Linked DNA regions of Homo sapiens: all the other regions are linked to region 1. Evidence: fine-mapped expression QTL. A gene starts in region 1. Each other region holds a variant in brackets. All regions are shown on one strand. Distances are from middle to middle. Region 1 holds the start of MED15 (mediator complex subunit 15). Region 2 overlaps MED15 (mediator complex subunit 15). Region 3 overlaps MED15 (mediator complex subunit 15). Region 4 overlaps MED15 (mediator complex subunit 15).

What was found. PIP is the estimated chance that this variant, and not a neighbour inherited with it, causes the effect. A credible set is the group of variants that fine-mapping cannot tell apart.
Region 2: its variant is the best candidate, but not a certain one, in a credible set for the expression of MED15 in tibial nerve (GTEx, PIP 0.64).
Region 3: its variant is the best candidate, but not a certain one, in a credible set for the expression of MED15 in skeletal muscle (GTEx, PIP 0.57).
Region 4: its variant is the best candidate, but not a certain one, in a credible set for the expression of MED15 in putamen (GTEx, PIP 0.87).

What each region holds. Positions count from the first base shown.
Region 1 is chr22:20,503,783-20,510,072 of GRCh38, reverse strand. It overlaps MED15 (mediator complex subunit 15), which reads right to left and starts at 2,463. Exons shown (of 18, transcript NM_001003891.3): 1 at 2,327-2,463. The coding sequence starts at 2,394. RefSeq lists enhancers at 2,371-2,480, 4,360-4,859.
Region 2 is chr22:20,579,300-20,584,299 of GRCh38, reverse strand. It overlaps MED15 (mediator complex subunit 15), which reads right to left. Exons shown (of 18, transcript NM_001003891.3): 10 at 1,553-1,689; 11 at 1,333-1,460; 12 at 1,053-1,187; 13 at 907-970. Among named protein-coding and RNA genes, the nearest start is that of MED15, 74 kb to the right of the region's middle. The variant C/T (reference allele first, on the strand shown) is at 2,641.
Region 3 is chr22:20,555,022-20,560,021 of GRCh38, reverse strand. MED15 (mediator complex subunit 15) reads right to left here. Exons shown (of 18, transcript NM_001003891.3): 5 at 4,874-5,000. Among named protein-coding and RNA genes, the nearest start is that of MED15, 50 kb to the right of the region's middle. The variant T/G (reference allele first, on the strand shown) is at 2,553.
Region 4 is chr22:20,533,014-20,538,013 of GRCh38, reverse strand. It overlaps MED15 (mediator complex subunit 15), which reads right to left. Exons shown (of 18, transcript NM_001003891.3): 2 at 810-897. Among named protein-coding and RNA genes, the nearest start is that of MED15, 28 kb to the right of the region's middle. RefSeq lists an enhancer at 289-458. The variant A/T (reference allele first, on the strand shown) is at 2,274.

The DNA.
Region 1 (6,290 bases):
GGTAATTTGTTAGAGCGGCAACAGAAAAACACACAAACAGCAATATCGAAAAAAATAAAGAACTCAATTCTCCCGGAAGCAAAATAAAGCTGAGTTATGAAGTATCCAGTCACTCAACACCCATAAACTCTTCAATCACCCTCCCAGCCCTCTTAACACTTCCCCTACCCCCATTTTCTTTGATGACAACTCACCCTTCCAGTTCTTAATTCTGGGCTTTCCCAGAGAAGAACCCTTGCCCTGGGGACTTTTCTTGCAGGAACCCTGAAGTGGGATATCTCTCAAGTTTTCACCTACAGATAACTATATTTTATCAGTAAAACACTGTTCACTGATTGTGCAATATCCCCAGAAATATCCCAAGGCTATTCTTCCCAAAGCCCATAGCTACTAACTCTACAGTCCCTACTCTTTCCACTGTACTGAAAGGTTTCCCAGCATTCAGCCCGGCTTCCTTCCTTCCACAATGCTTCACCCCACACCCCACCCCCCTCCATCCAGTTAGTCATCAAGAATTGTCTACGTTCCCCCTCCTCTGGAATCTGTCTTCCTCTTTCAGTTTCTACCACTGTCTAATGCAGGCCTTTATAATCTCCCGCCCGACTAGGTCATGCCACAATCATTTTACGGAGCAATGTGGCAGGCAGTGAGCTAGCAGTGAGAATATAAGGATGAAAAAGGACAGGTTCCCTACTCCCTCCAAATGTTCAAACTCTCTTAATAGCTTAACTGGTCTCTCTTCTCTGCCCTGCATCCATCTCCAGGGACAGGGACTCTAGGCATATTCCCAACACTGGCATTTCACTACTCCAAAGAATGCCACATGCCAAACACAGGCTCAATTCCTTGGCACAACACCCCCACTAAAGTGCTAGTACCTGCTCACCCTCATTCCATCATCTCCTGGGCTCTCTTACTCCTCGAGCCCCAGAACTCTCAGCCTACAAGATCCTCCCTCCACGCAGTAAATGCTCATGTTTCCTAACTCCTCAGCTTGGAATGGTGGCTATTCACACTCCTACTTGTCTTTCTAGGACTCAATTTATTCGTCACCTACTCACTAGACTGCCCCTGGTCTGCTCAAGTTAACCGCCGCTTCGCAAGAAACCCCTGCAGTATACACATTACAGACTGACAAGACTGCGCTGTGACGGTTCCTTTACCATCCCTCAGGAAAGGGGCTGTGTCTCAGGCAAATCTGTGGCGAGCACAACACGCCAATAAGCTCAGTTAAAAACTGTCAGGCCTCTGAGCCCAGGCCAGGCCATCGCATCCCCTGTGACTTGCACGTATACATCCAGATGGCCTGAAGTAACTGAAGATCCACAAAAGAAGTAAAAACAGCCGTAACTGATGACATTCCACCATTGTGATTTGTTCCTGCCCCACCCTAACTGATCAATGTACTTTGTAATCTCCCCCACCCTTAAGAAGGTTCTTTGTAATTCTCCCCACCCTTGAGAATGTACTTTGTGAGATCCATCCCTGCCCACCAGAGAACAATTGACTAATTTTCCATTACCTTCCCAAATCCTATAAAACGACCCCACCCCTATCTCCCTTCGCTGACTCTCTTTTCGGACTCAGCCCACCTGCACCCAGGTGAAATAAACAGCTTTATTGCTCACACAAAGCCTGTTTGGTGGTCTCTTCACACGGACGCGCATGAAAAAAACTGCTAACAGAAACAAGCAGTCGGTGGTGAGGGGCTAGAGTTCCTCTGAGCGGGGCCACTGACCCCAGCTCTTCACGCTCTCCTCCAGAAACGACGATCGCTTCCTGACAGCGGCTTCCTGCCATCCTTCGGCAAAGTCCACATTCCTTCGGGGGGTCACCCTCAGATCCTCCGTCCCACCGCCCACACCCCAAACAACTACCTTCCCAATCTCATCTTACATCCACCCTCCTCCCATCACTTTCTTTCACCGTTGATGCGCTTTTCTGGAAGAGAAACCATGAAGCACCCAGCCCTGCTAAACCCACTACAGCCGGCTGCTTCTCTCCCTTTCCCTATTCAGTGTGGTTCAAAAAGCGGGGGAAAGTCTGCACCCAAAGCACACAAATGACGAATGAGAAAGCTCAAGACGATGATTCATAAGCCAGGGCTCGTTGGTTTGCAGAGCTCGGCCCCAGGAAAGCAAACGAGCAGTCCATGTCGGGAACGGAGGGGACAGACGGGGGGGCCCGAGCCCTGGGACCCACGCAAGTCCCCGGCGCCTTCTGTCTCCCGGCGCCGTAGGTTTCTCACGGGTCCGGCCCTGGCCTCGCCCGCCACGCTAAGGAGGAAGGTCCCACAATCCAGCCCCCTGCCCCGACCACTACTCACATTTGACTGACCAGCTTCTGCCGGAAGGCGGTGCTCCGCCAGTCGGTCTCTTGCCCGGAAACGTCCATGCCTGTTCCCCAGCTCCCGCCGCCCGTATCCCGCTTGGCCGCCACCGCCGCCGCCTCAGTCACAGAGCCAGGCCCAAACCCGGAAGCCGTCCGCAGTGCCTCGGCCGAGCCGGAAGTGAAGGAGGGCTTGTGGGAAATGGAGTCTCGCGCACAGGCTTGTGGGAAATGAAGTTCCCCGCCGGGGACGAAGCGGTCTCGGTTCCGCCCGGCTGGGAGACACACGCCCCTCTTCCAGTGCAGCTGTCGGACACGGCAGGTGCTCCCGCAGCAGACCTGCGCCTGACCGCCTGCATTTTCTGCAACTCTTCAGTGTGCTGGCCTTATCTAGTCCCTGAGATCCAGACCCCTCCGGGATGCCAGGCCAAGCTGCCAGCTATCTATAGTAATGCTAGGGAGAGAGTGTTTATTTATCAAATATGTGTGGGTACCTACTGTGTGCCAGTGCAACGTGATCTGGGATCTGCTTTCATGCAACTGCCTGCTAGCGCCGCATCCGAAGAGCGACCAGATGGACTCTCATCACCGCTTCACTCTTCGATTTTTTGAATCTCACATCTCACAATGGCTGTATTTGGGGGTTGGGAATGTGAGGCCCCTAAACCACGTTAATTAATTTTTAGACATGGGCTTTCCCTTTTGACCAGCAGCCACGTCCCCTTCATGGAGAACTCAGCCTAGCTAGTTGCTGGAGGCCAGATGTCAAACGAATTTGATAGGTGAAGGTGAGCGAGCTGAAGGTGGGATGAGGGGTTATGGGGGCCTGAGAATGCTTTTAGGAATGTAAAAGTTCTGCCTCCTTGGAACTATGGGGCCTTTATCTGCTACCCTGGGGAGGGAGGTGACGTGAGGAAAATCTGGAGCCCAAGTGGTCAATAAGCACCAGGTGGACACCAACCAACATGGGCCTCAGGAGACTGTGGACTGGCACCTACTGAAGCCTAAGTGCCAGGCCCCTGCTAGGCACTGTACACCCCTTACACCCCTTGTTACTGTGCCCCAGACAGGAGGTTGAAGGTGGTAGAGAGTGGGTGGGAGAGGAGTGAGCACTCTCCCCAAAGAGGCCTCTCTTGCCAACAGAGTTTCATGTCTTGTGTTGATGTGAGAGCTGTTCATGTTTTCAAACGTTTTCTGCTCTAATACTCCCAAAATCGTTATTGTTTTTTTTGAGGGGGGGGGGATAGAATTTAGCCCTTGTTGGCCAGGCTGGAGTGCAGTGGTGCCATCTCGGCTCACTGCAACCTCTGTCTCCCGGGTTCACGCAATTCTCCCACCTCAGCTTCCCCAGTAGCTGGGATTACAAGCGTACCCCACCATGCCTGGCTAATTTTTGTATTTTTAGTAGAGACAGGGTTTCACCACGTTGGCCAGGCTGGTCTCGAACTCCTGACCTCAGGTGATCCACCTACCTCGGCCTCCCAAAGTGCTGGGATTACAGGCATGAGCCACCGTGCCCGGTGGCAAAACTAATTTTTTTTTTTTGAGATGGAGTCTCGCCCTGTTGCCCAGACTGGAGTGCTGTGGTGACATCTCGGCTCACTGCAACCTCTGCCTCCCGGGTTCAAGTGATTCTCCTGCCTCAGCCTCCCAAGTAGCTGGGATTACAGGTGCCTGCTACGAAGCCCAGCTAATTTTTTGTATCCTTAGTAGAGACAGGGTTTCACCATCTTGGCCAGGCTGAAAACTAATTTTTAAAAACTCTATCTAGAGTGATCATCTTGACCGGGGTTGCCCAGGACATCCAAGGTTTTAGTGTTTTTTTCCTTGTTTTATTTTGTTGTTGTTGTTTGTTTGTTTGTTTTTTGAGATGGAGTCTTGCTCTGTTGCCCAGGCTGGAGTGCAGTGGCACAATCTTGGCTCACTGCAAGCTCCGCCTCCCGGGTTCACGCCATTCTCCTGCCTCAGCCTCCCAAGTAGCTGGGACTACAGGCGCCCGCCACCACGCCCAGCTAATTTTTTTGTATTTTTAGTAGAGACAGGGTTTCACCGTGTTAGCCAGGATGGTCTCGATCTCCTGACCTCATGATCCGCCTGCCTCGGCCTCCCAAATTGCTGGGATTACAGGCGTGAGCCACCGCGCCCGGCCCTTGGTTTTTTTTTTTTTTTTTTTTTTTTTTTTTTTGAGACAGAGTCTCACTCTGTCGCCCAAGCTGGAGTGCAGTGGCGCAATCTCAGCTCACTGCATCCTCCGCCTCTCAGGTTCAAGTGATTCTCCTGCCTCAGCCTCCTGAGTAGCTGGGACTACAAGCACCTGGCACCACATCTGGCTAATTTTTGTATTTTTGGTGGAGACAGGGTTTCACCATGTTGGCCAGGATGTTCTCAATCTCCTGACCTGGCGATCCACCCGCCTTGGCCTCCCAAAGTGTTGGGATTACAGGCGTGAGCCACCACGCCCAGCCTTGTTTTCTTTTTTTTTGAGACAGAGTCTCGCTAGGTCTGCCAGGCTTGAGTGCAGTGGCGTGATCGCTTACTGCAGTCCCCGCCATCCGGGGTTCAAGTGATTCTCGTGCCTCAGCCTCCCCAGTAGCTGGGACTACAGTGCGCCACCACGCCCGACTCATTTTTGTATTTTATTTTATTTTATTTTTAGTAAAGATGGGGTTTCACCATGTTGCCCAGGCTGGTCTTGAACTCCTGACAGGTGATCCGCCTGCCTCGGCCTCCCAAAGTGCTGGGATTACAGGTGTGAGCCACCGTGCCCAGCCCCAGGTTTAAGTTTTGAAAGTCCTGTGTTCTGGCTGGGCATGGTGGCTCACGCCTATAATCCCAGCACTTTGGGAAGCTGAGGCAGGTGGATCACCTGAGGTCAGGAGTTCGAGACCAGCTTGGCCAACATAGTGAAACCCCGTCTCTACTAAAAATACAAAAGTAGCCAGGCATGGTGGTGTGTGCCTGTAATCCCAGCTACTCAGGAGGCTGAGGCACGAGAATCACTTGAACCCAGGAGGTGGAGGTTGCAGTGAGCTGAGATTATGCCATTGCACTGCAGCCTGGGCAACAAGAGCGAAACTCTGTCTCAAACAAACAAACAAACAAACATGTTAATAGGATACTTAGGACAACCCTCCCCCTTCTGCACTATGGTTGATGGAGACACAGACACATAATTCACAGACACAGACAGAGAGAGGCCTGGAACTTTGCCAGGAGTTTATCATCACAGTAAAATTGAGTGACTATTCCCTTTGGTATTTTCCCCAGAGCTCTTTTTCTACTTGTCCCCGCATTGGGTTGGTGCCCAGGGCAGTGATCCCTGGTGACAGTCTGGATGGGTGACCTGGAAAGGTGGACCAAGGAAAGTAAGGGGCCACAGGAAGGTTGATCCTGAAGTGGACTTGCCCTCTCTTGACACTGTAGACCCTCCTGGGATCCCCAGTCTGGATGTTAGTGGTTTAGATGTCTGAGAATAAGTGATGGAGGAAGCCGAGGGTATGCAGAGGCCAGACCTGCATCCCACACTATGTTCTGGGGATCCTCATCTCGGGGGAGATCCTCACTGCTCATGTGGCCATGTCTCTAGCCTGCGGGTTCCTGCAGGCTACCATGCCAAGGCTGGTTCCACTCAATGGCCACATATTTCCTGGACACCATTCTGGGCTCTGCAGGAGGTAGGAGCTGGAAGCTTCCCAGGCAGATCAAGCTTCCCCCTAGAGAGCTCAGCACAAGCTCTGTGAGCCTGTGGCTGTCTCCATACAGCCTCACCTCCAATCTTCCTCCTTGCTTTGGCACTCAGTCCCTGGGAGGTGGTGACCTGCCCCACCTTCCATCCTAGCACCAGCCAGATGTAACTCCTCTGTGTGTTTGGCCTGGAGCCTGTAATCACTTATGTATGTGGAGGTAGGGAGGGAGTGGTTATTGTTTCTTTTTTTTTTTTTTTTGAGATGGAGTCTCACTCT
Region 2 (5,000 bases), 75 kb before region 1:
GATCCCAACTACTGCCACTGGGCCTCAGCCATCAGAAACCTCTGCAGGAGCTCCTACCAGTTGACCAGCTGTTCCCAGACCCAGAGTTGAAGGCAGGCAGCCCTCAACCCCAGGAGCTGCTTGTCCCTGGTTGGCAGAGTGAGGTGATGGGTCAAGAGAAGGGACAGTGGCCAGGCCCCTGATCAGGCTGTGAATGCCTCATTGTCATGTAGGCCAGTCCCTGCCCCACTCATCCCTATAACCCTAACAAAGGATCAACCCATGAAGACCTGGAGGACCACCCAATAGTGACTGGCATTCTATCCAGACAAGCAGAACAGAGAGACCCTTCTAGACAGGGGTTGGGGGATAGCCTGAGTTGAGGTGAAAGGGAGGTATATGCCAATGCCCATGCAGTTTGGAGGTACTGCCCGAGCTCTGATCCTCACAGCAGCCTGTGGCCAGCAGCCCTGCCTTCCACCTGCTTCTCACCAGCGCCACCTTGTTTCATTTTCATGACAACACACGTGGGCTACAAATGGGGTAACTGAGATGCAGTCGCCTGCCCATGGTCACCAGCAAGTCAGGGGCAGAACTCCAGGTCAGGCTCAGGCCCATCTGGGCCAGCTGATGGTCAGGCCACTGCAAGCTGGGCCCCTGGCTGCTGACTGGATGAGGTCTGGCTGTGATGGCCCAGCATGAGGGCCACAGCAGCAGCCAGGAATAGGGCAAAGGCTGGGCATGGGCCAAGATGAAGCCTGGGCTTGAAGCCCCAGCACACACCAGAGTGGAGCCTTGGAGGCCTCTGGCCAGGGTCCAAAGAGCTGCCTGGTGCCTTTGTTAAACCCACATCATCACCAAGTGCCCATCCATGGCTGGGCTATCTGTGCCCTTGTGGACCCTCCGTGGGCTGTGGGCAAAGCTCACCGCTTCGAGGGGTCTGTCAGAATGTCCAGAAGGCTCTTCATCTTACTCAGGTCCTTTTTTCTGTCTGGGACAGAAGAGGGTACACACTAAGACACAAGCCTGGTGGTGTCCCCAGGGTGCAGGCCCCTGCCCTGGCTGCAGCCTACCTTCGTTCTTGTCGATCTTGTTGATCATGCGGCGCAGGGGCTCGATGTACTTCGACAGCTGCTTCAGCTTGTCCAGGTACTGCTGCTCCTCAGCCTGGCTGGAGCCAGCTGGGCTCATGACAGAGCTGGGGTTCACTGCAGGACACAGGCGGGTGAGGCCACAGCCCTCGACCCTCGGGTGGGGAACTTGAGCTCTGAGGGCCCCAGAGCTCGCACACCCAGTATGAGCTGAGGCCTCATAAAGGTGAGGAGTGACCTTAGCACCTCAGGCCCAACTTACCAGGTGTGTTTAAAGGTCCAGGTGAGGGGACACTGAAGTTCTGTGGGGTCCGCGCCGTCACTGGGCTCTGGGAGGGCTGCGGTGAGGGGCTGGGCAGGAAGCTACTGGGAGATGGGGCAGGGCCAGAGCTGCAGCCAAGTGAGAGAAACATGTGAGCCGGGGTCCAGGCAGGGCCAGCCTCGAGGGCCAGGTGGGGAGGGGCACCCCAGGCCAGGCCTACCTGACGTTGGAGTTGGGCTGTGAGCTGGGCTGGCCGGGCTGCGGGGACGGCTGGGGGGGAGGGGGCATCGACTGCGGGGTCTGCACCTGCTGGCCCGGTGACGGCGAGGACAGCATGGGGAGGCTGCTCTGGCTGACCTGGAAGTGGAGGGGCTCAGCCGGCGCGCTGCCACACGCCCGCCCGCCTGCCTCCACACCACCTGCCCACCGCACGCATAGGCCCATCCTCCCGCACAGCCTCACCACACACCTGTGTCTTCATCCAAATGCCACCTGGACATACACACAGGCACACTCCCCCAGCCTGGCACACAGCATGAGGTGACCAAGGGGCTGGCGGGGGGGGCCCAGGCAGGGCAGCCCTTGCTCCTTGGCCAGGGACCCACAGGGGCACAGGCTTTGAGGGCTGTGTCGTGGGAGTGTGAGGAAAAGGGCAGTCTGGGAGGCAATGCCCTTGGCTGGCACTAGCCTGGCCTTCCCTGACACGCCTGCCTGTCCTGTGACATGCTCCTCTGTGGGTCGGTGAGGACCCTGCTCTGCTGACCAGTGGGACCGTCTTCCCACATGCTTCCACAAGCCCCCGCAGCCCCCAGGCTGACTGCACCAAGGACAAGCCTGGTGGCTACAGCCATCTGTTGTGGTTAACACATGCTGCTGCAGGGCTGGTCCCAGGCTGTCCCACCTGGACCTGCTTAATTGGAGTGAGGTGGCCCAGGGAGCCACACACACACCCATGGTGGCACTTGCATCGGCCCACACCAGCGCCCCTGGGAGAGGCGAGCTACTCAGTGTCAGACACCTGGGCCCAGAGCCTGGTTCTGCCATGCAGGTGTGCACCTGAGTCCTCTGAGGCCCTGTGTGTATGCAAAGCAAGGCTGTTGCTCTGCTCCCCAGGCCTTGCTGGCCACGACACAAATAAGATCAATCACCCCAGTGTCTGCACCAGGGACACCACTGTCTTCATCCGTAAACTCTAGGGATGAAACCACACCACCCAGGCATCAGGGATAAGCATATGTAAAACACCCACACCTTCCTGGGGTGGAGCACAGATGGCTGCTTTGATGGGGAGAACAGCTGCCTGCCAGC[C/T]CTGGGCGTCTGGCCTCCCCTAGAGGGACTCTCAGCAAAGAGGGATGCCTTGTCACACTGGGGGAACCCTGAAGGCCCTGCTACATTTCCCACACCCTAGTCAACCCCCTGCATGCCAAGCATCCCCTCACAGTCTGCCTAGGAGCCAGGCCCCTGGACCATCCATTTCTGTAGACCAACTCAGTGCTTCTCCTGGGGCACTCTGGCCATGAACGCCTGTCTCGGGCCACGGCTCACACCACCCCCCAAGCACTTCCACCACAGTGCTGTGAGTACTGGGATAGGACAGCTGCTTTCTAAGCTCCTTAAATTGGGGACCAGGCCCAGAGCCCACAAACAGAATGCTGCCCTCCTCACCACCCCACCAGGCAGCAGAGGGCAGGGTGGCACTGCCCTTTCAGCACCACGTGGACCAAGCTCCTGGAGCGAAATGCTCTTTCTGTCCTGCCTGTTCCATGGGCTGTGCCTGACAGTGCTGCAAGGGATGCTGGGTGCAGGCCGTTCCTGAACCACGTGTGCTGGGAGACCAGGGGGTGGGGGGCTAAGGCACAGAGCGTGACCACAACAGGGTACTTCCAGCACAGCTGGGTCAGAGGTCCCTATCCAAAGCCACTGGCCCAGTGGGACATCAACCGATGGAATGGACTGTTCCCACTGCTTTGTGGTCAAGACACCTCTGCCTGGGAGAGGAGGGACAGAGTGCAGGAGCCCCAGCCTCGGCCTGCCGGGCCTCATCACTCTACCTAATGGAGCAAAATGGCTCGCGGTGATTCTCGCAAAGGTTAGCAAGGTCAGAAACGGGGACTGATGTGACTTCATTTGCTAAATGCTGAGTTGAACAAGTACAGAGATTTCTCCCACCAAAGTCCTGTGCATTCACGGTGCTGGGGTGCACAGAGCCCTAGCTGAAGAGGAGTAAGGGCATGTCCCAGACACCGGAACACATGTTCTAGACTTATCCAGGTGTCAACAAAATCCCAAGGCCAGAAAATTCCATACAGAGAACCACAGACGGCACCGAGGAGTGGGAAGCAAAGACTCTGGGCCCCATGCTCAGCCCAACTCTGCCTTTTCTGACCCATGCTTGACTTGCTGCTACTCTCTACCTGCACCCCAGAAAGCTGTCTCACAAGCTCACCTCTCTTCCTGCTTGAAGGTCAGGGCCCCTCCCCTTGCCTCTACCTGACTGCCTCTTCCAGAGAGGCGCCTGTGCCTGAGCAGCTGTCCCTTCTAGAAGATGGTCAGCTCTTTTCTGTGGCCTAAAGCTCAGCGCTTCTCTGAGGAGCAAGGCAGCTGCAGGCTGGGCAGAGGCTGCCAAGCAGAGAAGGCCACCACACAGCCCTCATTGCCACTCAAGAGTTCTCATCTGCTCTCGAACCTCAGGAAGCCCGGCACCCACTTTGGCCCTGAAGCGGCAATCTCACCAGCCACGCCCGTGGGGCCTCCAAGCACCCACCCAGAACTTAGGTCTATCTCAGTTCTTCAGCTGCCCCAGGTCAGGGCAGCTGGTGGCCAGCAGAGCCTACAGGATGGGAGACAGGGAGATTTCTAGTGGGAAGAAAAACAAACGAGGGGCACCCTTTCATTTCCAAGAGCACAAGAGCAGAAAGCCAGGCCCTGTGCCCAGGTGTCAGTGGTGGACAGTCCAAGTCCAGCACCTGGGATGAGAAGCAGCCCCCCAAAGACTCATCTGAAGACACAACTGGCATTAGGGAGGCAGCCAGAGAGGTCGGGCGCCGGTGTGTCACAGCTAGCAAAGGCCCCAGGACAAGAATGTCACACATCCTAGGGAAGGAGTTTCTGAGTGCACACCACCTGTCACCTGTGTGTCACAGGTTGGGAACAGGGAGCTCAGAGGGAAGTGACTTGCTCAAGGTCATCCTAGTGATGAAGGGAGCTCAGGCACGCTAAACATCAACACCCCAGCAACACCACCACCCCAGCAACAATGGCCTGAACTGCATTTCTGGGAAAGGGACCCACACAGCAGCCTGGAGCTGAAGGCAGGTGGACACCGAGTGGGCCAGAGAGGAGGTGGGAGGGCAAAAAGGCTGGTCCAGGGAGCTCCATCTCACAGAGGAACCCTCAGGCAAGGCTGGCGGCACTGCGCGATCCCCACCCCCGCCCCCACATACTGGGAACCGTTCCTTGCTCCTGGCTCCGGCACTCAGTGTGTCCCCTGGAGGCACTCCCCAGGGTGCAGTGGAACACGGGTCTCACCCTGGCAGCTGGCAGCCAGCAGAGCCCAGAGGATGGGAGGCAGGGAGATTTCTAGTGGGAAGAAAAACAAATGAAGGGCACCCATTCATTTCCAAGAGCACGAGAGCAGGAAGCCAGGCCCTGTGCCCAGGTGTCAGTGG
Region 3 (5,000 bases), 51 kb before region 1:
AAAATGTCTCCAGACATTGTCAAATATCCCCTGTGGTGGAATGTCACCCTGGGTGAGAATCACTGCTTTAGATTTATACACATTTACTATCACCTATGCTCAACGTTTCTTTTCCCATTTTACCTTGTATCACCTGAGAGGGAAGAGGAAAGGATAAACAAAAGAATATATCTAAGAGTGCAAAAGGCTTATTGGAAAAAGGATAAAAAAAGATATATCCTTTAGAAAATCTTTTAGTGATGGTCTCTAAGGCTAGGTTTATCTAAAAATGGCTTGCTTTCCACATCCTTGAGTCTTGCTGGCATACAAATGTGACTGGCAGCTCTATTCTCAATGCTTTAACAATATTCTATTACCTTTCTGACTCTACTGCTGAGTGTACTCATTGCTCCTTTGCAGGAACTGCCTATTTCTAAGACATTCCTCTGGCCTTTGGTGCTCTGCAGTCTCACAGCAGATGAGATGGCTAACTTGGTTGGGGCCAGATGGGCTTTTCTCAGTAGTTATCCCCTCACATATTGTTTTCTTCCATTCTCTCCATTTGATCCTTCCGGGGCTTTGCTTGGATGCCAATTAGAATTTCTGATCTTATCCTCATTTCTTACCCTTGCTTTCACATTTTCCATGTGCTCTTCTCTGTGCTACATTCTAGATAATTTCTTCAAATGTAGCTTCTATTACACAAATTCTTTCTTCAGCTGTATCTAATGCGCTGTTCATTCATCCACTTTCTTCGTTCAATAATTATATTGCTCATTTCTACAGCTTTCATTTGGTTCCGTTTCAAATCTGCTTCATTGCTCCTGATGATGCTTTTTCATTTGAATTTCTGCTCTTTCTTTTCCTTTTTGTTTTCTATTTTTTCAGAGATGGTGTCTCGTTCTATCCCCCAGGCTGGAGTGCAGTGGTGCAATGATAGTTCACCATAGCCTCAAACTCCTGGCCTCAAGCAATCCCCCTGCCTTAGCCTCCCGAGTAGCCAGGAGTGTAGTCGTGAGCCACTGTGCCCGGCTCTCCACTTTATTTCTTTATATACCCCATGGCCCATAACTAACAGTTCCTGTGTGTGTGGTCACTGGGCATGCCTACATGTGTCTATTTTTTCTGTTCACCTTCATGGTGTCTCTCCTTCCCTTCAAGGCTGGTGATCTTTGTATGCTGATTGCTTGACCTTAATGTGCAACTGTCACAGGTCTTACACTGGGGACATGTTCCTCCAATCCGCACCTGCTCCAATCTGCACCTGCTTCTGGGGGGTATGGGGGGTGACACAGGACCCAGCACAAATCCTGGCTGACTACAGGAATCCCAAGCTTTCTTCCCCCACCTTGCAGCAGCTGAGGCTCAGGAGGACAAAGCCTCCCCAACTGCTGCAGGCCAGCATTCCAAAGTGCATCCTAACCAGAACCTAGTTATCCAGGAGGAGAACATGTCCTCAGCACCCCAGTCCATCACACAACTGGCAGTAGAAATTATTTTTAAAGTCGGCTTTACATGCACGTCATATAAAACTCATGAGAAACAAAAATGCGCAGAGTGAAAAGCTTTGCTTCCAACTCTGTACTGCAGCCCCAGCCATAGGAACAACCAGCAGTTTCAGCCTTTTCCGACTAACCTGGGTCACCTGAAAACTATCACAATGTCCCCTGGCCTACCCTTTGAGAGTCCCTGGCAAAACCTCTGACCCAGGCTCTGTCCTCTTGGTGGCACTAGATGAAGATCTGAAAGGGCCTTAATCATGCAGTAGTCTTTGGGAAAGGTGTCAGGAAGGGGTATCAAATGCCCATCAGACAACACTACTAGTTTCAGGGAGACCAGGGAGGCAAGTGGTGAAGGGCAGGGAGAGTTGGCCTCTGACAAAGGTGGTAACAAGATCCTGAAGTAGAGAATCCACTGTAACTTTTTCTTTTTTCTTTTGAGACAGAGTCTCGCTCTGTTGCCCAGGCTGGAGTGCAGTGGCACGATCTCGCCCCCTGCAAGCTCCGCCTCCCAGGTTCATGCCATTCTCCTGCCTTAGTCTCCCGAGTAGCTGGGACTACAGGCACCCACCACTACGCCCGGCTAATTTTTTGTATTTTTAGTAGAGACGGGGTCTCACCGTGTTAGCCAGGATGGTCTCGATCTCCTGACCTCGTGATCCGCCCGCCTCAGCCTCCCAAAGTGCTGGGATTACAGGCGTGAGCCACCGTGCCCAGCCCCCACTGTAACTTTCAACTAGTGCCACACAGAAGACCAGTCCCCTTGGAAGCTAAAAACAGGATGTGGGGGCCAAGGCCAGACTGGGGAGGGCGTGGGCAGGATATCAAGCTTCACCACTGAACTTCTGACAAAGAACTGGTTTAAGACAAAGTCTCTGAAGTGGGATGACAAGGCAACTCATGTGAGCATTCTAAACTCATACATTTAAAAACAATTTATTATCAAGTATAAGCTCATGATTAAAAAAAAAATGCACCAAGTACACAAGAGTAGAACGTGACAAGGAACTTGAGCCGGCACTTCTGTGGGTCCTCCCTAAACCCAGCTGGTGTACTTATCTGATGTGCTAAAAA[T/G]AGTGAGGTAATGAGAGCTTGGGACGAAGAACCAGGCAGATTGTTCTAGGATGAGGAAACCAGCACGTGCTGAGAGTTAGACAACAGGAAGTAAGAGGAGAATTAAGGTATGAGAAGGGAAGGTGGCTTGGGATGGAGGAAGATTCCAGAGCAGGAGTGGGTAGAAATGAGGATGCCTATGGCCCCAAAGAAGAGGAAACCTGACACAGGATAGGGTAGGAGTGTGAGGATGGGGTCAGGCAGCAGCTTCGATCCCAGCTCTTGGCCTGGGGTGTGACTCCAGTTCTCCTTAGCAGCTGCTACACTGACAAAGCAGAGGGGGCGATGCTGCCCTCTTCATAGGGTTATCATGAGGGATGTGTGACAAAAATATATTGAAGCACTGAAGCCTGTACACAGATATCCACAGCAGCTTTGTTTGCATAATAGTAAGCAAAAGCAGGAAACAACCCAAATGTCCTTCATGGGTGAATGAATAAGCAAACTGTGGAAAATCCGTTCCATGGAACACTACTTAGTGATGAAAAGGAATGAATTACTGATAAAACCTGGCTGGGTCTCAAGGGTATCAGATTGAATTTAAAAAGCCAATCTCAAAAAGTCACATATGGTATGATTCCATTTATACAACATTCACAAAGGGACAGAACTACAGAGACACACAACAGATCAGCAATTGTCACTGCTTAAGGCTGGAGGGAGGGCGCGATCTCTGAGAGGTAACACAAGAGAGTTGGTTGGTGGTAATGGAACGGCTCCGCATGCCAATTGTGGTGATGGCTACTTGATTTGACACGTGGTAAAATCTCACAGACCTACACATACCCATATATGTAGCCCAAGAATGAGTGTAAAAAAACTGATGAAGTCGGCTGGGCGTGATGGCTCACGTCTGTAATCCCAGCACTTTGGGAGGCTCAGGAGAGAAGATCACTTGAGGTCAGGAGTTTGAGACCAGCCTGGCCAACATGGTGAAACCCCATCTCCACTAAAAATATAAAATTAGCTGGGCATGGTGGCAGGCGCCTGTAGTCCCAGGTAGTCGGAGGCTGAGGCAAGAGAACTGCTTGAACTCGGAAGGCAGAAGTTGCAGTGAGCTGAGATCACACCACTGCACTCCAGCCTGGGCAACAAGAGTGAAACTCTGTCTCAAAAAAAAAAAAAAAACTGATGAAGTCCAAGCTAAGTCTCTAACTGAGGTGATTACACTGCCTCAACATTAATTTCTTGGTTTTGACAATGTTCTATGTAAGATACTATTATTGGGGAGAGCTGGGTAAAGGGCATGTGGGAACTCTCTATGCTATTCCACAACTTCCTGTGACTCCTATTTTAAAAATAAAAAGTTACATGAAAGGGGAAAAAAACACTAAAGCACTTTGCAGTGGGCACAGCACACTCTAAGAAATGTTGATGGGACTCAAGGATACATCAAGATAGGTCCTAAGGGCAGGCGCGTTGGCTCACGCCTGTAATCCCAACACTTTGGGAGGCCGAGGTGAGCAGATCGCTTGAGCCCAGGAGTTCAAGATAAGCCTGGGCAACATGGTGAAGTCCCATCTCTACAAAAAATACAAAATATTAGCCGGGCGCGGTGCTGTGAGCCTATAGTCCCAGCTACTTTGGAGGCTGTGGTGTGAGGATCACCTGAGCCCAGGATGTCCAGGCTGCAGTGAGCCGTGATTGTGCCACTGCACTCCAATGTGGCCCACAGAGCGAGACCCCGTCTCAAAAGACAGGTCCTGGAAAGAAGAGGGAGGTTCTTTGCCTCCCCTTTAGAGCAGCTTTGGTTCACCTATAACACCTGATCACAGCCCAGTTTCCCACCACAGCAGCCGTGTGGAGAGGACACAGAGTCTCCTTCACAGAAAGGAAGCCAGAAGATAATATGGCTGCAAGCCACACCCATGGTGACCAAGGGGCAAGGGCAGCACTAGAAGAGATGGTGCCCAGAGCTCGGGCAGACAGTGGAGTTGTGGTTGCTGGCACTCAGCCCTGCCTTGTAGCTGAGAACCCTCTGAAACACACTGTATCTATTTCAGCCACAAAACACAAACCTTTGGATGGAGTCTCAGGCCATCCCCACCCTCCTGCCCAGGGCTAGGAGGAGGAGGAGGGCCCAGCATCACTTAACCCTTCTGGGAGCTCAACGAAAATTGGAAGCCTTTTCTCTCCACATACAACAAAGATTTAAAAAACAAAAAAACCAGAGCGATTTGGAGCTTCTCCATGCTTTTCTTGATACCATCATAAGCACAGGAATAAAATGTGTTGTCGTTTGCAAGGAAAGCGGCAAATCCTCCAAGAAGTGTGGTACTCACTCTGTGGAGTTGCCGTAGACACGACAGCCATGCTGTGAGGGGCCATCCCCGAGGTCCCAGGAGGCGGCTGCCCTGAGAGAGACATTGGCTGTCCCATGGCACCAAGGCTACCCATCCCGCCCAGAGA
Region 4 (5,000 bases), 29 kb before region 1:
AAAGAAAAAGAAAAAGCTTATCAAACGTATCCGTAGTACAGAGCCCACTCTACCCCACCTCAGTGACACGTATCCATAATACAGAGCCCACTCTATCCCACTTCAGTCACACGTGTCCATAGTACAGAGCCCACTCTACCCCACCTCAGTCCCTGTGCTCTTGCAGCTCTGCCTTGCACACACACGTGCACACAAGTGAATATGTGTTTTGTTCATTTCTAGTAAAACGGTTCTGTCCCAGGGAGCACACACAGATTAAAGGAGGTGGTCACATAAAGCCCTCAGTGTGGTGCCCCACCCAGGGAGAAAGCCCACATATAGTGGAAATCCTTCTTCTCCACTCCACCTGTGGCGAGTTCTAGATAAGCATCACCTTCTTCACTTAGCAAAAGGGGACAGGAATGCTTCTGGGCCCATGCCTCAGGGCCCTGTAGGGCTTAGGTAAGGACCCCTAGGAGGGGCTGAGGACAAACCAGGTTCTTGCTCACGGCATTGATCCCTTCCACAGGACCAGCTAGGGGCCTGAGCAAGCTTCCTGTAGGATTCACAGGGGCTGACCACAGATGGAAGGTGACGGCAGTGAGGTCTGGGGCCAGAGGCTGGGCCTGCAACCCAAGTGCCCTCCCTGTACCATGGACACACAGGAGGACCCAGACTGCTGCAGGCAAAACCAACTGTGCCTGTGATCAATCGATGAGCAACCACCCCACCCCTACACCCTAGGACACCCAACAGAGGGGTTCCAGAGTCTGTGATGCTCTCCTCTCCAAGTCTCTCTGCCAGAGTGGCTCCACTTACTAGGGCCTTACCCGGGTCTTGGCCTTCAGGAAAACATGGCTCTCCATATCCTTGCTGGATTTACTGTGTGCCACACCAGCTTTCCTCATGGCATCCTCGCTGAAACACAAAAGGAGAAGAGACGTTTGCACACACCAGTGACTCCACCGCTGCAGGGCCCTGGCCAACAGGCCCTGCATAGCAGCTGCCCCTGGTGACAAGGTGCTATCGCCAGCACACCAGCCTGGCTGAGGTCCAGGAGAGGCATATGGGAAGGGGCACTCAACAGAGAGCAATGACAGGCCACTGAGCAGGGTGATCAGAAAAAAGGGACAGGAAAGGTGGTCGCCATGAAGCAAAGAGAGAGCCCTGGCATGAAGGGACGGGGCGGGGGAGGGGTTGCCCCTAGGGATGGCTCACAACCAGTTCAGGATCAAGGAAGTACGCATTAGACTACTGGGTGGCCAGCTGGCCTCTATTTCCTGCTCTCTGAGTGGCCTGCGTTCCCCATGAACTCTGCCAGATGGTAGCACCCTGGTTCTAGACTCGATTACTCCTATAAAATGAAGGGGCCACATGAAGTCATCTCTCAGTCCCTCCCAAGGCAAGGGTCTGTCCCTATGTGGGACAATGCAGGTCCTATATGTGGGATCAAAGAGACAAGCTCCAACTTCACTTCTAGCTAGAGACAAGAAGAGAAAGACCACATAAATGTGAAAAATATCTTTAAAAACCCATTTACCAACAATTTTGTACTAAGAGATAGAATCCTATGAAGAGTTTTTCATCACACTGCTGCTCCACGGGGATAAAGAGCCATGTACATCAGTTAAGGTGGAGACCCCTCGAATGCAGCACATGCTGCCCCACCCACCCCCACCCCCACCTCCCACACTCACACACAGAAAGACAAAAACAAGTGTGAATCTGTTAGAAAGGCCTGGCCTGTGGCTCCCAGGGGTGGACTGCTCTGGTGTGCTCACTGCCTGCCTTCTTGCCAGTGGGATGGGTCTCTTCCTTGCCTGGCCTCCCACCCTGGGCTTGCTGATAAAGAAACAAGTGGCCAGGTGCAGTGCCACACGCCTGTAATCCCAACACTTTGGGAGGCCGAGGCGGGTGGATCATCTGAGGTCAGGAGTTCAAGACCAACCTGACCAACATGGTGAAACCCTGTCTCTACTAAAAATACAAAATTAGCAGGGTGTGGTTGCGCATGCCTGTAATCTCAGCTACAAAGGAGGCTGAGGCAGGAGAATCGCTTGAACCGGGAGGTGGAGGTTGCAGTGAGCCGAGATTGCGCCACTGCACTCCAGCCTGGGTGACAGAGCGAAACTCCATCTCAAAAAAAAAAAAAAAAAAAAAAAGAAAGAAAGAAGCAGGCTGAGCACGGTGGCTCACGCCTGTAGTCCCAGCACTTTGGGAGGCCAAGGCGGGCAGATCACGAGGTCAGGCGAGCACGACCATCCTGGCTAACACAGTGAAACCCTGTCTCTACT[A/T]AAAATACAAAAAATTAGCTGGGCATGGTGGCAGGCGCCTGTAGTCCCAGCTACTCGGGAGGCTGAGGCAGGAGAATGGCATGAACCCGGGAGGCGGAGCTGGCAGTGAGCGGAGATTGCGCCACTGCACTTCAGCCTGGGCAACAGTGCGAGACTCCGTCTCAAAAAAAAAAAAAAGAAAGAAAGCAAAAGAAAAAAGAAACAAGCAAACATGTCAGGGCTCTGGGGCCTTGCCTCTGAGTGAATTGAATAGGCCCAGTCCAGCTCGTGCTAGAAAGCATTCTGACCACTCCAAACAGCAACCAGCCAACCTCAGGAAACTGAAGGAATGTACAGACGGGGCTACAGCAATATGACTGTGATTCTTAAAGACATCACAGAAAGGAGGTTTAATGCTGAGAGGTGCATACATCTGTCTTAATGTAAAAAGAAAAACAAAATGACATTGACCTACCACCCTGCTAGATTCAAAAAGCACTCTTGGGCTGGGCACGATGGCTCAGGTCTGTAATCCCAGCACTTTGGGAGGCCGAGGCAGGTGGATCACCTGAGGTCAGGAGTTTGAGACCAGCCTGGCTAACGTGGTGAAACCCTGTCTCCACTAAAAATACAAAAATTAGTCGGGTGTGGTGGCAGGCACCTGTGGTCCCAGCTACTCGGGAGGCTGAGGCAGGAGAATCGCTTGAACCCTGGAGGCAGAGGTTGCAGTGAGCCAAGATGGCACTACTGCACTCCAGCCTGGGCGACAGAATGAGACTCCTGCACTCTTGGAGTTCCTACCTCCCTGTCTGCTTCCTGAAGCCTGAAGGGAGGCGAGGAGGCAGCAAGGGGTTTCTGCTCACAAGGCATCCAGGTGTGGAACAGACAAGTAAGAAAGGTCACCAGGGCCACAAAAGATGAGAGAGTTAACAATCCAGGAGGATAATGACAACCAACTCACGCGCGGCACTGGGTCAGAGTCCTGGGGAAGCGAGGCATGGGTGGGCTGGGAGGACCCTGTACTCATGCTCTCAGGTTAGCATGGGGCAGGGTCTCCACACCCAGAGGCTGAGACGATAGCTGCTAGGCCCCAAGAAGTCAGTGAGCATTTCTGATAGAAGTGGCTGCACAGGCCTGTTTTCTGAAGGTTGCCTCATCTGTGCCCCTCAAGGCAGGTATGCCCTTCAAAGGCATACTTGTTCTTCCCACCTTCCTTTTTTCTTTTTCTTCTTTTGTTTTTTGAGACAATGTCTCACTCTCTCACAGGTGCAGCGCAGTGGGGCAAACACAGCTCACTGCAGCTTCAAACTCCTGGGCTCAAGTATCCTCTCACCTCAGCCTCCCAAATAGCTGGGACTACAGGCATGCGCCACCACGCCTGGCTAATTTTTTTATTTTTTACTTTTTTTGTAGAGACAGGGTCTTGCTTTGTTGCCCAGGCTGGTCTCAAACTCCTGGCCTTAAGTGATCCTCCACCTTGGCCTCCCAAAGCACTGGGACCAATAGGGAGACTCAGGGAAGAGCAGTAGAAACAGCAGGGGAGCATTTGCAGGCCAAGCAGGACGGCCTGGAGGCTGGCTGTGTAAGGAGTGGGGAGGCTGTGGGTGGCAGATGTGGCCAGGAGTCAGAGAGGAAGAAGGGTGCAGAAGAGTCTGGGGAGTGACAACCAGTTACACAGATGGGCTCTGTGCCCACCAGCAGCGATCAGAGAGCAAAGCCAGGCTTTGATACAAAAGCAGTCCTTTTGAGCTGCTACTGGCCGTTTTTGAGAGTGTCAGCAGACTGGCAGGCCCCAGACAGACACTGTCTTGGTGCAGCAGAGACACCTGGCACAGTCAGAGAGACAAGATCTAGAAACACAGCTTAGTGCAATAGCTCTGAGGTGGTGGGATGACCAGGTTGAAGAAATATGCTTGGTGAGCTGAAGGCAAGGTGGCACCATACACCAGGGGATGTACTGGCAGACGGGCCCTGTCCTGTCCTGGGTAATGTCACAGATGACATGGACACTGTGGGCACCGTCAGCTACTCAGAGCCTGAGGAGCATGGACCAAGCTGGAGGCCAGAAACAGGCAAGTCTTGACAGGCCAACACCAGGAAACCGAGTTGGGGTAAATGTCCAGTTCCACATGAGCTTCGGAGGGTCAGAGTGGGGCCAAGGAGCAAGGTGCTCCTCCGGCAAGGCGCTCCTCCAGCAAGGCTACCGCTCAGAACAGCAGCACTGTGCCATGTCACTCCCACATCTCTCCCACAGCATCCACCCAGGGAGGCCCAGCAGGTTTGGTGGCCAGTAACAGACCCTGTGTGGTTTTGCAGTTCTGACAACTGTATTTTTGAAAATGTCTTTGCTCCTGTTTCTAGTTTGAAGATCAAGTGTCACAAAATAGAGACAAAGCGAAAAAGAACCCAGGAACTCTGCAGCTAATCCCCCACACTTCCCTGCAGATGCCTGCCCTTTCCTCTCCAGCTGGCCTGGCGCTTTTCAGAGGCATCCCCTGCCTGGACATTGACTCCAGGAGGGTACCCATTTCACACTCCTGCTGAGGTCAAGTCCCCTTCCTTCCTCCCTTAGACCTAACACACCCGCTGCGGGAGGCTGCAGGCAGGACCCAGGCCCACCTTCAGAACAGCACTGGCTGCTCCCAAAGCCCCCTTCTGATCTCCCTGAGCTGGGCTCTGCTGCCATCCCCAGCATGCCTTCCTGAGCAGCCAGACCCGAATGGCTACTCCTCAGTCTCTGTCTCCTGA